3 linked regions of the Homo sapiens genome follow. The protein of the gene in region 3 interacts with the protein of the main gene of each other region in a biochemical or structural test. Each region holds a gene or a part of one and is shown on either strand. Other genes may lie near its edges. The genes, in order: ITGA4, PTPRH and PXN.

Region 1 (3,750 bases), on a different chromosome or scaffold from region 3:
CCAGCAATTTGGGAGGCCGAGGAGGGCGCATCACCTGAGGTCAGGAGTTTGAGGGCAGCCTGGCCAACGTGGTGAAACCCAATCTCTACTAAAAATACAAAAAAAAATTAGCTGGGCGTGGTGGCGTGTGCCTGTAGTACCAGCTACTCGGGAGGCTGAGGCAGGAGAATCGCTTGAACCCGAGAAGCAGAGGTTGCAGTGAGCTGAGGTCACACCGCTGCCCTCCAGCATGGGCAATAGAGCGAGACTCTTAAAAAAAAAAAAAAAAAAAAAAAAAAAAAAAAGGCCATGTGCTCTGACCTGGGTGACAATATCTGTCCCTCACCGATATTCTTTTCTTGCTTTCCATGACACTACACCTTTTTCATTCTACTGACCATTCCTTCTCTTTCAGCCCTTAAGTGATTCATGTAAATTTGGCAAATGTAATGTGGGATAACTTCTTAGTTTTTTCCTAAGGTTCTCATACCTCAATTTATGTTACCCATTTTTGAATTATTTCTTCCCATCTCATGATCCCTGCTGGCTACTTATAATGAACCCCAAATCTGGGGAACAAGTCTAACATTATTAAGTATGATAAATTTTTTGTTACAATACAAGGCTGTCACTCTCTTTTAAAGGCCTGTGATTTGACATTTTTATCTGCAATAAACTCTAAGAAATATGTTTCTAGGGAGATCTCTACTCCATAAGGTGCTCACATTTGGCAGCTAATATTAGGTAATACCAAATTAGAAACTCATGAAACAGGAAAGTAACCAGCATAGATTTAGGCAGTTTAACAGGTGAACATACCTTGTTCAAAATAATGAGATGTGAATAACAGAAAAATAGGAAGACACTCATCATAAGCCAGGAGGAGTGGCAAGATAAACACTGAAAACCAGGAAACACGCAATGAACTTTTTATTTGCTTACTCGTGATTCTCTAGGTCTTACTCTCCTGTGAATGGCCTTTTTTCACCCGTTTGCTTTATCTCAAACTTGATACTCAATTCCATCAGACACTGACATTTTACATTTACATGACTGTATATCACCTTTCTAAGTGGATAAGATGACTGCGGGATGGTTTAGATTTAGAGCAACAGGAAAGGCTCATCTGTCTATTTGTTCTGTAACTCATATCTTCTACTGCATAAAAATGTAGTTTTAAGGACTAACACCATGAATAAGTTCTAGTGGAATTACTGAAGGTTTCCGTAAGCCCCCTTTTATTCTTTCTCCACACATCTCCTTCTTGAATGAGAGGGGGATCCACTCAATCATTAAAATCATGAGGAAGCAATGAATTCTGATACTGTGGTTGAGGAATCTGGTGATCCCATAGGTATAAAAAGTGGACAAGGGACACCTTGCAGCCAGATCTCTCACATCTCAATCCATTTGCCACATGTGTAGATACGGGTCTGCAGAATAGTGATTTGACTAAGTTCACACTTCTCTGAACTTCACACTTGACATGGGCATTAAGTATGATTATGCAGACTGCATACTGCCTAATTCCAGATTAGGATTACACAGTGCACAGCTGAAAGGCTCAGTGTGGCCTTGCTAGCTTGTTGGGGCTCTCACAGTAAGAAATCTCCTCCAGCTGGGTACTAGTTTGATGTAGTATCAGTGATGATTATAGAGTGGATTATTATAATGGACAGCTAAGTAAGGGACTATAACAATGAGGTAATTATTAAAAGATAGAGTATCCTTTTTATTTTAAAAAAATTCTAGAATACAGTTTTTTCATTAATGTAAGAAGCAAGGAAACTGTAAATCAGCTCTAAATTTGAAAGGAAGCCTTTATGTCTACTTACCCATGAACAGTCAGCTTAACCTCATATTTTAAAGGTATTGCTACAGTCACTCTGCTGTGCTTTAGATTGTCCATTTCCTCTTCATTTTCACTATACAAACAGAAAACACCCTGTTAGAATTCACCAAGCAGAAAAATCTTCAGAGAGAACTAATTACATACCCTGTATACCTAATATACTCAGAGGTTTGCTTAAATGCTTTTTGAGGAGTGGGGATAAAAGTAGATATGGTAGTAAAAATTTTTTAGGACAAGGTTGGCAGAAAATTTCTCTCATTATTTAAACTGTTATCATTTGCTTCTAATGCTAGATAGAGGAATTTTTTTTTTTTTAACAAATAGTTACATTTATTAGATTAAAAGATTTTTTAACATTTATGTTCTAGGTGGTACAAAAACCAGAATAAATAGGTAGTTTAGAAACAAATCTATTACTCTCTTTAGGTTGAAGAAGTATTTTTGCAAGACTTAATGATCAAAGAAAGCACATCAATCATATAATTTTTTAAACTGTATAGCAAGTCATGTACTGCCTTAACGTATCTTTATAATCAGTTTTACTTATAGAGATTTTTAGGATGAGAGGGTGACCAAGTTGTTGTGTTAGGTAAAATGAAGTCCATCTTGACGTTTATTCTGAATTTTAAAAAATATATTGAAACTTCACTCATGAAATAGTCATTAACGATTTCCTATTTACTCTAGGAGACATATCTATGGAAGTCATTACCCTCACTTTTAAATCTTGTAGAGTTATTACTTGTAAACTGTTTATTCTGTTTTTGATTTCAAATACACAGTTTGATTCGTGACACATCATGTCTACTCTAATCTAATCTAATAAATACTTAACATAGCTCAAGAGCTAAAACATTGCCAGTAACTCCCATTTAACTATGTTGTTTGGTTCTTTTAAAAGCATACCACGTAAGAGAAGTTTTCTCTTACAATTAATGGAACACAGTTTTACGGTTCTCCTAATTCCCCCCCCTCAGAATATGGGGGTATATTTCTAGTTCATTTTATTAACAATAAATTATACCAGGTAGCATGCACTGTGATACTGAGGTCCTCTTCCGCTCTGCTGAGTGAGCTCACATCCAGGAGAAAGCTAATATCTATCTGTAAAACACAGACCAGGAAAGCCCATTAAAAAAAATCTTAAGTACATTTTTTATAATCTGAATTTTTTTCTTAAAAGTTTATGTTCTATGGAATGTAGAATTGAACCATTGTAAAGGCATCAGCTACTCCTCCCTTGGCAATAAGATTCAGGGAAGTTGTTGGGTTTGTGGCTATTTTAAAGTACACACATATCCACACGTAACATTCAGAGACAAAGACGTCTCTGAATGTGAACGCAGGCAAGTCTAGACAAAATTAGAAATGCTTTCACAACTTGAGTGGAGACTCTTGCCAAAAACACCTTTTTGTATAGCAGAGGTAACATGCCTGGCAGACAGGACCACCTGCGGTGGGGGTGGGGGTTTTCGGGAAGGGTGTGTAGGGGGAGCAGAATTCTGATTGACACATGCACATGCCCATTTCGATGTAAACATGCCACCCCCTTTAAAACAGCAAACATTGCCAAGAATATAAACACAAAGCTCAAAGATTTCAAGAACCAGTTTTATTTCATCACTCAGCTACCTACCCCAAGCTAAAATATTTATAATATTTTCTATGCAACCTAAAGATAGGGAAGAATAGAAAAAAATATTCATGATAGTGAACAAAAGCCATAAATATGAAACACTTACCCTTGAGAGATGATCTACATATATATAGCCAATACTGCAGTCAAGTTGTACCACGCCAGAGTTATCTGTGACTTCACAGTTTATTTGCTTCTCTTCCTAATGGGAAAAATGAAACAACTGTTTTGGACAGGAAGGAAATAAAAAGTTTGTAACATATGTTTAAGGATGGTTATTGAA
Region 2 (3,750 bases), on a different chromosome or scaffold from region 3:
TAGCCTACTCTTGATTGGAAGCCTTACCAATAACATAAACAACATACATTTCATCTGTAATATGTACTACATACTGTATTCTTTTTGTTTGTTTGTTTGTTTTTGAGACAGAGTCTTGCTCTGTTACCCAGGCTGGAGTGCAGTAGTGTGATCTGGGCTCACTGCAAGCTCCACCTCCCGGGTTCACGCCATTCTCCTGCCTCAGCCTCCCGAGTAGCTGGGACTACAGGCGCCCACCACCACGCCCTGCTAATTTTTTGTATTTTTAGTGGAGATGGGGTTTCACCGTGTTAACCAGGATGGTCTCGATCTCCTGACCTCGTGATGTGCCCATCTCCGCCTCCCAAAGTGCTGGGATTACAGGCGTAAGCCACCGCGCCCGGCCGTACTATATGCTGTATTCTTATAATCAAGTAGCTAAAGAAAAAAATGTTACTAAGAATATCCTAAGGAAGAGAAAATGTACTCGCTATTTATTAAGTAGATCATCATAAAGGTCTTCCTCCTTGTAGTCTTCGCGTTGAGTAGGCGGAGGAGGAGGAGGAGGTAGGAGAGGGGCTGGTCTTGCTGTCTCAGGGGTGGAGGAAAATCCATGGGTAAGCGCGTAAGTATAACTGGACCGACGCAATTCACACCGTGTGATGTTCGGGGGTCAGCTGTCTTTGGACCAGGCTCCTGGGGAAGAGGAAAGGCTGGGCAGGGTTGGAGACAGATGAGCAGCTCAGACCTGCGCTCTGAGGGTTCCCGATGCCTCCTCCCCACAGGGGTCATTGCCGGAGCCTTTGTGGGCATCCTCCTGTTTCTCATCCTCGTGGGCCTGCTGATTTTCTTCCTGAAGAGGAGGTGAGACTCAGCACAGGGCTGACCGCCTGGAGGGTGGGGGCTGGAGAAGAAGGAGGAGGACCGCTGGTTGCAGCCTCACCCCCTGAGCCTCTCATCCTAACGTCCTTTTCCCAGGAATAAGAAGAAGCAGCAGAAACCAGAACTCAGGGATCTGGTCTTTAGGTGAGCAGAAGGTCTGGGGGGTGCATTGGAAAGAATCTGGTCAAATCAAGGGGTGTTTGCTGGCTGCCAGCTAGGTCAGAGGGTGGATCAATGCATTTACCCACAAAGGTCTCAGAAGGGGCCCATGCCTCTGCGACAGGGACCACGGCCCTTCCATCGTGACTCACTCCCCAAGCAGCCTGGGCCAGCGAATTCAGTTCTGGTCTCAACTCCCGGACATTCATTCATTCAGCAGATATCAGCTGAGCACCAGCATGTATCAGGCACTGTTCCAGGTGCCAAACAAACAGCAAATGAAACCAAGATTCTTGCCCGCCAGGGGCTTATATTCTAGTACAGGAGATATCAATAAACAAGATTGCTGGGTGCGGTGGCTCATGCCTGTAATCCCAGCACTTTGGGAAGCTGAGGCAGGCAGACCACAAGGTCAGGAGATCAAGACCATCCTGGCTAACGTGGTGAAACCCTGTCTCCACTAAAAAATACAAAAAATTAGCCAGGCTTGGTGGCGGGCACCTATAGTCCCAGCTACTTGGGAGGCTGAGGCAGGAGAATGGCGTGAACCTGGGAGGTAGAGCTTGCAGTGAGTTGAGATCACGCCACTGCACTGCAGCCTGGGTGACAGATCGAGACTCCGTCTCAAAAAAATAATAGTAATAAAAAATTAAAAAAGATCATAAAAAATATGATATAAACTTTCAGACAGGGCCAGGCATGGTGGCTCACGCCTGTAATCCCAGCTACGCAGGTGGCTGGGGCAGGAGAATCACTTGAACCCGGGAGCAGAGGTTGCAGTGAGCTGAGATTGCACCATTGCACTCCAGCCTGGGCAACAGAGTGAGACTCTGTCTCAAAAAAAAATTATATATATATATAATTTATAATATATATAATATATAATATATAAATTTATAATATATAATATATTATATGTTATATATATAATATATTATATATTATATATATTATACAATATAAAATATACATTATATATAATATAATATATAAATTATATAATATATAATATATAAATTTATAATATATAAAATATATAAATAAACTTGGAGACAAGGCAAAAGGAGGGGATAGGAAGGGTAGAGGAATATTGTGATATTCTTTTTTTTTTTTTTTGAGGTGGAGTCTTGCTCTGTCACCCAGGCTGAAGTGCAGTGGCATGATCTCGGCTCACCGCAACCTCCGCCTCCCGGGTTCAAGCAATTCTACTGCCTCAGCCTCCCGAGTAGCTGGGAATACAGGCATGCACCACCACGCCCAGCTAATTTTTGTATTTTTTAGTAGAGACAGTGTTTCACTATGTTGGCCAGGCTGGTCTTGAACTCCTGACCTTGTGATCCACCTGCCTCGGCCTCCCAGAGTGCTGGGATTACCGGCGTGAGCCACAGCCCCTGGCCTATTTTGATATTCTTCTAATGTGAAAATTAGAATAAATTAGAGAGAAAATCAGATGAATTATTTTATTTTATTTTATTTTATTTATTAATTTGTCAAGACAGGGTCTCACTCTGTGGCCCAGGCTGGAGTGCAGTGGCGCAATCATAGCTCACTGCAGCCTCGACCTCCTGGGCTCAAGTGACCCTCCCATCTCAGCCTCCCCAGTAGCTGGGACCACAGGCACGCACCACAATGCCTGGCTAATTTTTTAATTTTTTGTAGAGATGGAGGTCGGGGGGGTGGTCTTACCAGGTTGCCCAGGCTGGTCTTGAACTTCTGGCCCCAAGCAGCCCTTCCACCTCGGCCTCCCAAAGTGTTTGCATCACAGGCGTGAGCCGCTGCACCCAGCAGGAATATTTTCGGCAGGATATTCAAGGAAAGCTTTGCTAACAAGATGACTAAGAGGAAGTCATCTGAGTACAGGCCTACGCAAGTGGGAGAGGAGCCGAGCATGCATCTGGGAAAGGCGCTCCCAGGACAGGGATGGGCGCGTGGAGGGCCTGAGGCAACAGCACACGTGAGGTTCAGAGAACATCGTGCGTCTCCGACTGAGCAGAGTGAGGAAGGGGAGGGCAGTGGGAAGTGAGGTCAGAGAGACGTCAGTGGGGCCACAGCAGGCACAGGCCTGTAGTTGAAAGTTAGGACTTTGGATTTATTGTGAGCTGAGAGTTCTTGGGAGATTTTGAATAGGCTAGTGACACAGTCTAACATGTTTAGGAAGAAGTCTAACATGTGGAAGAGATTTGTAATAATCCAGACAAGAGGCCAGGCGTGGTGGCTCACGCCTGTAATCCCAGCACTTTGGGAGGCCGAGGCGGGAGGATCACTTGAGGTCAGGAGTTCGAGACCAGCCTGATCAACATGGCAAAACCCCGTTTCTACTAAAAATACAAAAATTAGCCGGGCATGGTGGCTGGCACCTGTAATCCCAGCTACGCAGGAGGCAGAGGCAGGAGAATCACTTGAGCTCCAGAGGCTGAGGTTGCAGTGAGCTGAGATCACACCACTGCACTCCAACCTGGGCGACAGGATGAGACTCTTTCTCGGAAAAGGAAAAGAAAAAGAAAGAAAGTGAAACTACAGGAATGGGCCAAACCCTGTAAGAAGTGTGCGTCCAGCAAGAAAAGTGGCTTGGGGTTGGACACTGGGGAACAGTTACCTTTTAAGACGGACAGAGGAGGAGGGGCCTGCCCAGGAAATGAACAAGCAGCAGCTGGGTAGGTGGGGGCCAAGCCAGGGCTGGGTGTTCCGGAACAGTGCAGATCCAGGAGAAAAGGCAGGCACAGGCAGTGG
Region 3 (3,750 bases):
CTTGTACATGTAGGTTCTTGTCCTAGAGCCTCTTTCCCTACTTCTAAATGAGTGGAAAGCCACCCACAAGCCCGTGAGTGAGGATGCCCTTGGTAAACCCAGGTGATCACACCCTGGGCAGGCCCTGCCCCACAGGGCCCCATCCCGCTGCTCCCCAGCCTGTCCTCACCAACTGCCCAGGCAGGAGCAAAGCCCACGGGGAGGACCTGTGACCACAGGCAAGGACCACGGACCCCAGCCCCAGGGATTTTGACCTCAAGAAAGGAAACATCCACAATTTACCCTCCATCTGGTGATCCAGCTGCATCTGGGGTGGGTTTGGTCTCTGCTGGGACCATGAGGTTCAGACCACCAAGAAATAGCACTAGCACAGGTGAAAATCATGGGCAAACTTTATTGGCATAAATCACAGGAATTGAAATGGGAAAAGCCAGCTTGGAAGTTTACAGAGAAAAAATAAAATCAAAATCAAATTTTCAAATAACCACTGACTCAGAGAATGGACCCCAGAAACCCCAGTCCCTCTTGGGGAAGATCTAGGGTGGGTCACTATAAACAGAGCGGTAAGGCCTGCGGGTGAAAGTGGAGACATCAGACCTTTGGAGGGGCTGGGCTGACCTTCCCCCAAAAAGGAGGGACCCTCTTCGGAGACCCCAGCACACTCGGCTTCTGCCAGGAGGCCAGTGGAGTGGTTTGGACTGTCACCATTAGACCCCGGTGGGGCCCCTTTCTCCTCATCAGGAGCCCAAGGCCTGGCTCCTCTTTCATCCTTGGTAAAGAGCTCTGGGGGGTTTCCCCAGAGGAGCCTGTCCCTCTGCCCCAAATCCTATCATGCTCCCTTATGACCTTCTTTCCAGACCCCCTGAGTGCCGATCCCACCTGTGAAAGGGGAGGAGCAGATCTGGGGAAGGGATATGCCCAGAGGAAATCAACAAGACCAAAGAGACGTCAGAGTCCTGATGGCCAAAATCAGACACCAGCTTTCCTGAGAAGGCAGAAGAGAGAGCCCCATAGAAGCAGTGGGGGCTCAGAAGGTTCAGTGGGTTCACAGGGGAGCAGAGGCTCCTGAGGGCTTACTCAGACAGGAAGCAGCCCCCCAAAACATACTTCCCCTTCTCCTCCCACAGAAACAGAACAGATAAAGTTCAGAATTCTAGGCCCAAAAGGGTGCAACACCCTTCAACCAGTTTCAGTGAAGAGCTTGCTGGCCTGGGAAGTAAAGAAGGGGTTTCCAAATACAGCAGTTTATAAAACAGTCCTGGTGAGCTATGAAGTGAAAGAGGGGGAGTCACAGAGCTGCTCCCAGTTCACCTGCTTGTGCTAAGAAACAATAAAATACAAATTGCTTCCCCACCCCAACCCTCAGTACAAAGCAAACTTCACACCAGAGCCACCATCAGTGACAGGCCCAGTGGCGGTGGATGAGGAAGAGAATACAAAAGGGAACGTCTTTAAAATCTCTTCAAAATCATTTTGTATAGAGAAGTAAAAGCAACTCAGGCGATATGAATTCAAACCTCAGTGTAGAAATCTATCAAAGTCGGTACAGTGTCCAGGCACGCCGTCCCGGAGACGGAGGAAGTGACTAGAAAACATTATTGCTGGAGAGGCTTTTCTCAGTAGAACAAGAGCAGGTATAAAAGGGGAGGGCGGGTCTAAAAGGCAGGGGCAGTCGCCAGGCCTAGGGCACTGGAAGGGTAGGAGGAGCACAGAGAACCTTCCATGGCCCCTTTGGTTCTCTGCCTTTGGATGGATGGATTTATGCTGGCATTGTCTGGAGGGAGCCGGGTGTCCCCCAATAATCACAGAACAAAGACAATTAGGTCGGGGGAGGAATAAGGATAAAAAGAGACCCCAACAGACCCTGCCTGCCCTTCCCTGCCCCCCGGCTGCACTGCTGAAATATGAGGAAGAGATGGCTCCAGTGTGGGGTGCTGGCCAGGCCAGTTCGTGGGGACGTACATGGGCTGGGGTGGAGCCCCCAGCCTCTACCCCTGGGGAGGATGGAGAGTGGGCAGCCTAGGGAGAGCTACAGGAGGGAGGAGGGGGCCCAGAGGCTCTGGCAGGGGTGAAGACAAGCAGGGGGACCCCTCACGGCCCTCTGTCCATCCCGCACCAGCGGAGGACAAGGGTTCCAGTTTCAGTCGGGTTTACCCCTTCACCCCCGGGTGAAGTCTCTAGGTCACAGTCGCAGTTGGGGATGCTGGCTGGGGAAGGGGGGCAGAGACAGGGGCAGGGCACCTAGCAGAAGAGCTTGAGGAAGCAGTTCTGACAGTAAGGCTTGTCGTTCTGCTCCTTGAAGGTGCCCTTGTTGAGCTGCTTGAGGCAGAAGGCACAGACGAAGTGCTCGGGGTGGAACTTCTTGGCCATGGCGGTGATGCAGCGGCCGGTGATGGGCTTCTGGCAGCCAGAACACAGCGAGCCGCGCCGCTCGTGGTAGTGCACCTCACAGTAGGGCTGCCCGTCGTGCTCGAAGAAGCTGCCGTTCACGAATGGCGTGAAGCATTCCTGCCAGGCGGAGAGAGGGGCTCAGGGAGCTGCCCCTCGGGCTAGAGCTGCACCCTGTGTGATGGGGCCGAGGTGGGCATAGTCGGCACGCTCGGAGTGACTCCTACTTGCTAGGCGTTTCCCATGTGCCGTGTTGTCCTAAACGCTCATTTTTCATTTTTATTTTATTAAATAAATTTTTTTTGTAGAGATGGGGGTCTCACTATATTGCCCATGCTGGTCAAATGTGGCCTCCTGCAATCCTCCCACCTCGGCCTCCCACAGGGCTGGGATTATTTAGTTCTCCCAACAGGGGAGGCAACTGAAGCACACAGGTGAAGTAACTTGCCCAGGGTCATGCAGCTACTGAGGTCACAGCCTGGATTCATACACAGGTCTGACTCCTGAGCACTTAGCCAGGTGGCTGTAACAGTGTTCCCAGAAACACAGGTGTGACACTGGTCTGTAGTCAAACTCTGCCTCCTAGATTCTCATTGGAGATTCACATCACATATAGGTAGAAAAGGCTCTGAGAGGGGCCGGGTGAGGTGGCTCACACTTGTAATCCCAGCACTTTGGGAGGCCAAGGGAGGCGGATCACCTGAGGTCAGGAGTTCAAGACCAGCTTGGCCAACATGGTGAAACCCCGTCTCTACTGAAAATACAAAAAATTAGCCAGGCATGGGGGCGTGTGCCTGTAATCTCAGCTACTTGGGAGGCTGAGGCGGGAGAATCACTGGAACTCAGCAGGCAGAGGTTGCAGTCAGCCAAGATCGTGCCACTGCACACCAGTCTGGGCAACAGAGTGAGACTCCGTCTCAAAAAAAGAAAAGAAAAGAAAAGGCTCTGAGAAGTCCTGCAGGGAACAGTGTTTCCCAAACTCATTTGGTCAGAGAGCCCTTGTTGAATCATTAATAACCCCTGTGGGGCCCCCAGAATGCAGTGGTTTTGGAAACCACTGCCCATTTCTGTTGAGTCTGCTAAATACTTGCATTATCTCATTTAGTTCTCACACACTCTCCTCCCAAATAGGAATGGCCCAGGGCCGCTGCACAGGGCTGGACTGGGGGACATGTCTACCTTGCTCCTGGTTTGTCCCAGCCTCAGTACAAACCCTGGCCCAGGACCTACTGGACTGGAGGAAGGAGATCCCCTGCCTGCTCCCCCAATTAATAACCCCAAATGAGGCCTCTGAGTTGGATCCAGACAGCACAATGAGGAAGACCCCTCTCTCCCCACTGCCTGCTCCTCGCCCCTCCAGAT

Evidence for each region.
Region 1: the proteins of PXN (region 3) and ITGA4 form a complex in vitro, tested with the Homo sapiens proteins (2 studies listed by BioGRID).
Region 2: the proteins of PXN (region 3) and PTPRH form a complex in vitro, tested with the Homo sapiens proteins (one study listed by BioGRID).

Annotation. Positions count from the first base shown.
Region 1 is NC_000002.12:181,523,356-181,527,105, reverse strand, and holds part of ITGA4 (integrin alpha-4 isoform 1 preproprotein), read right to left. Parts: intron 3,670-3,750; coding exon 3,574-3,669; intron 2,936-3,573; coding exon 2,856-2,935; intron 1,905-2,855; coding exon 1,815-1,904; intron 1-1,814. UniProt on the Homo sapiens protein: Integrins alpha-4/beta-1 (VLA-4) and alpha-4/beta-7 are receptors for fibronectin. They recognize one or more domains within the alternatively spliced CS-1 and CS-5 regions of fibronectin. They are also receptors for VCAM1.
Region 2 is NC_000019.10:55,188,756-55,192,505, reverse strand, and holds part of PTPRH (receptor-type tyrosine-protein phosphatase H isoform 1 precursor), read left to right. Parts: intron 1-764; coding exon 765-843; intron 844-957; coding exon 958-1,005; intron 1,006-3,750. UniProt on the Homo sapiens protein: Protein phosphatase that may contribute to contact inhibition of cell growth and motility by mediating the dephosphorylation of focal adhesion-associated substrates and thus negatively regulating integrin-promoted signaling processes.
Region 3 is NC_000012.12:120,210,073-120,213,822, forward strand, and holds the end of PXN (paxillin), read right to left. Parts: intron 2,757-3,750; exon of another isoform or gene 2,563-2,756; coding exon of another isoform or gene 2,530-2,562; exon of another isoform or gene 2,509-2,529; coding exon 2,242-2,508; 3' UTR 375-2,241; downstream 1-374. UniProt on the Homo sapiens protein: Cytoskeletal protein involved in actin-membrane attachment at sites of cell adhesion to the extracellular matrix (focal adhesion). Recruits other proteins such as TRIM15 to focal adhesion.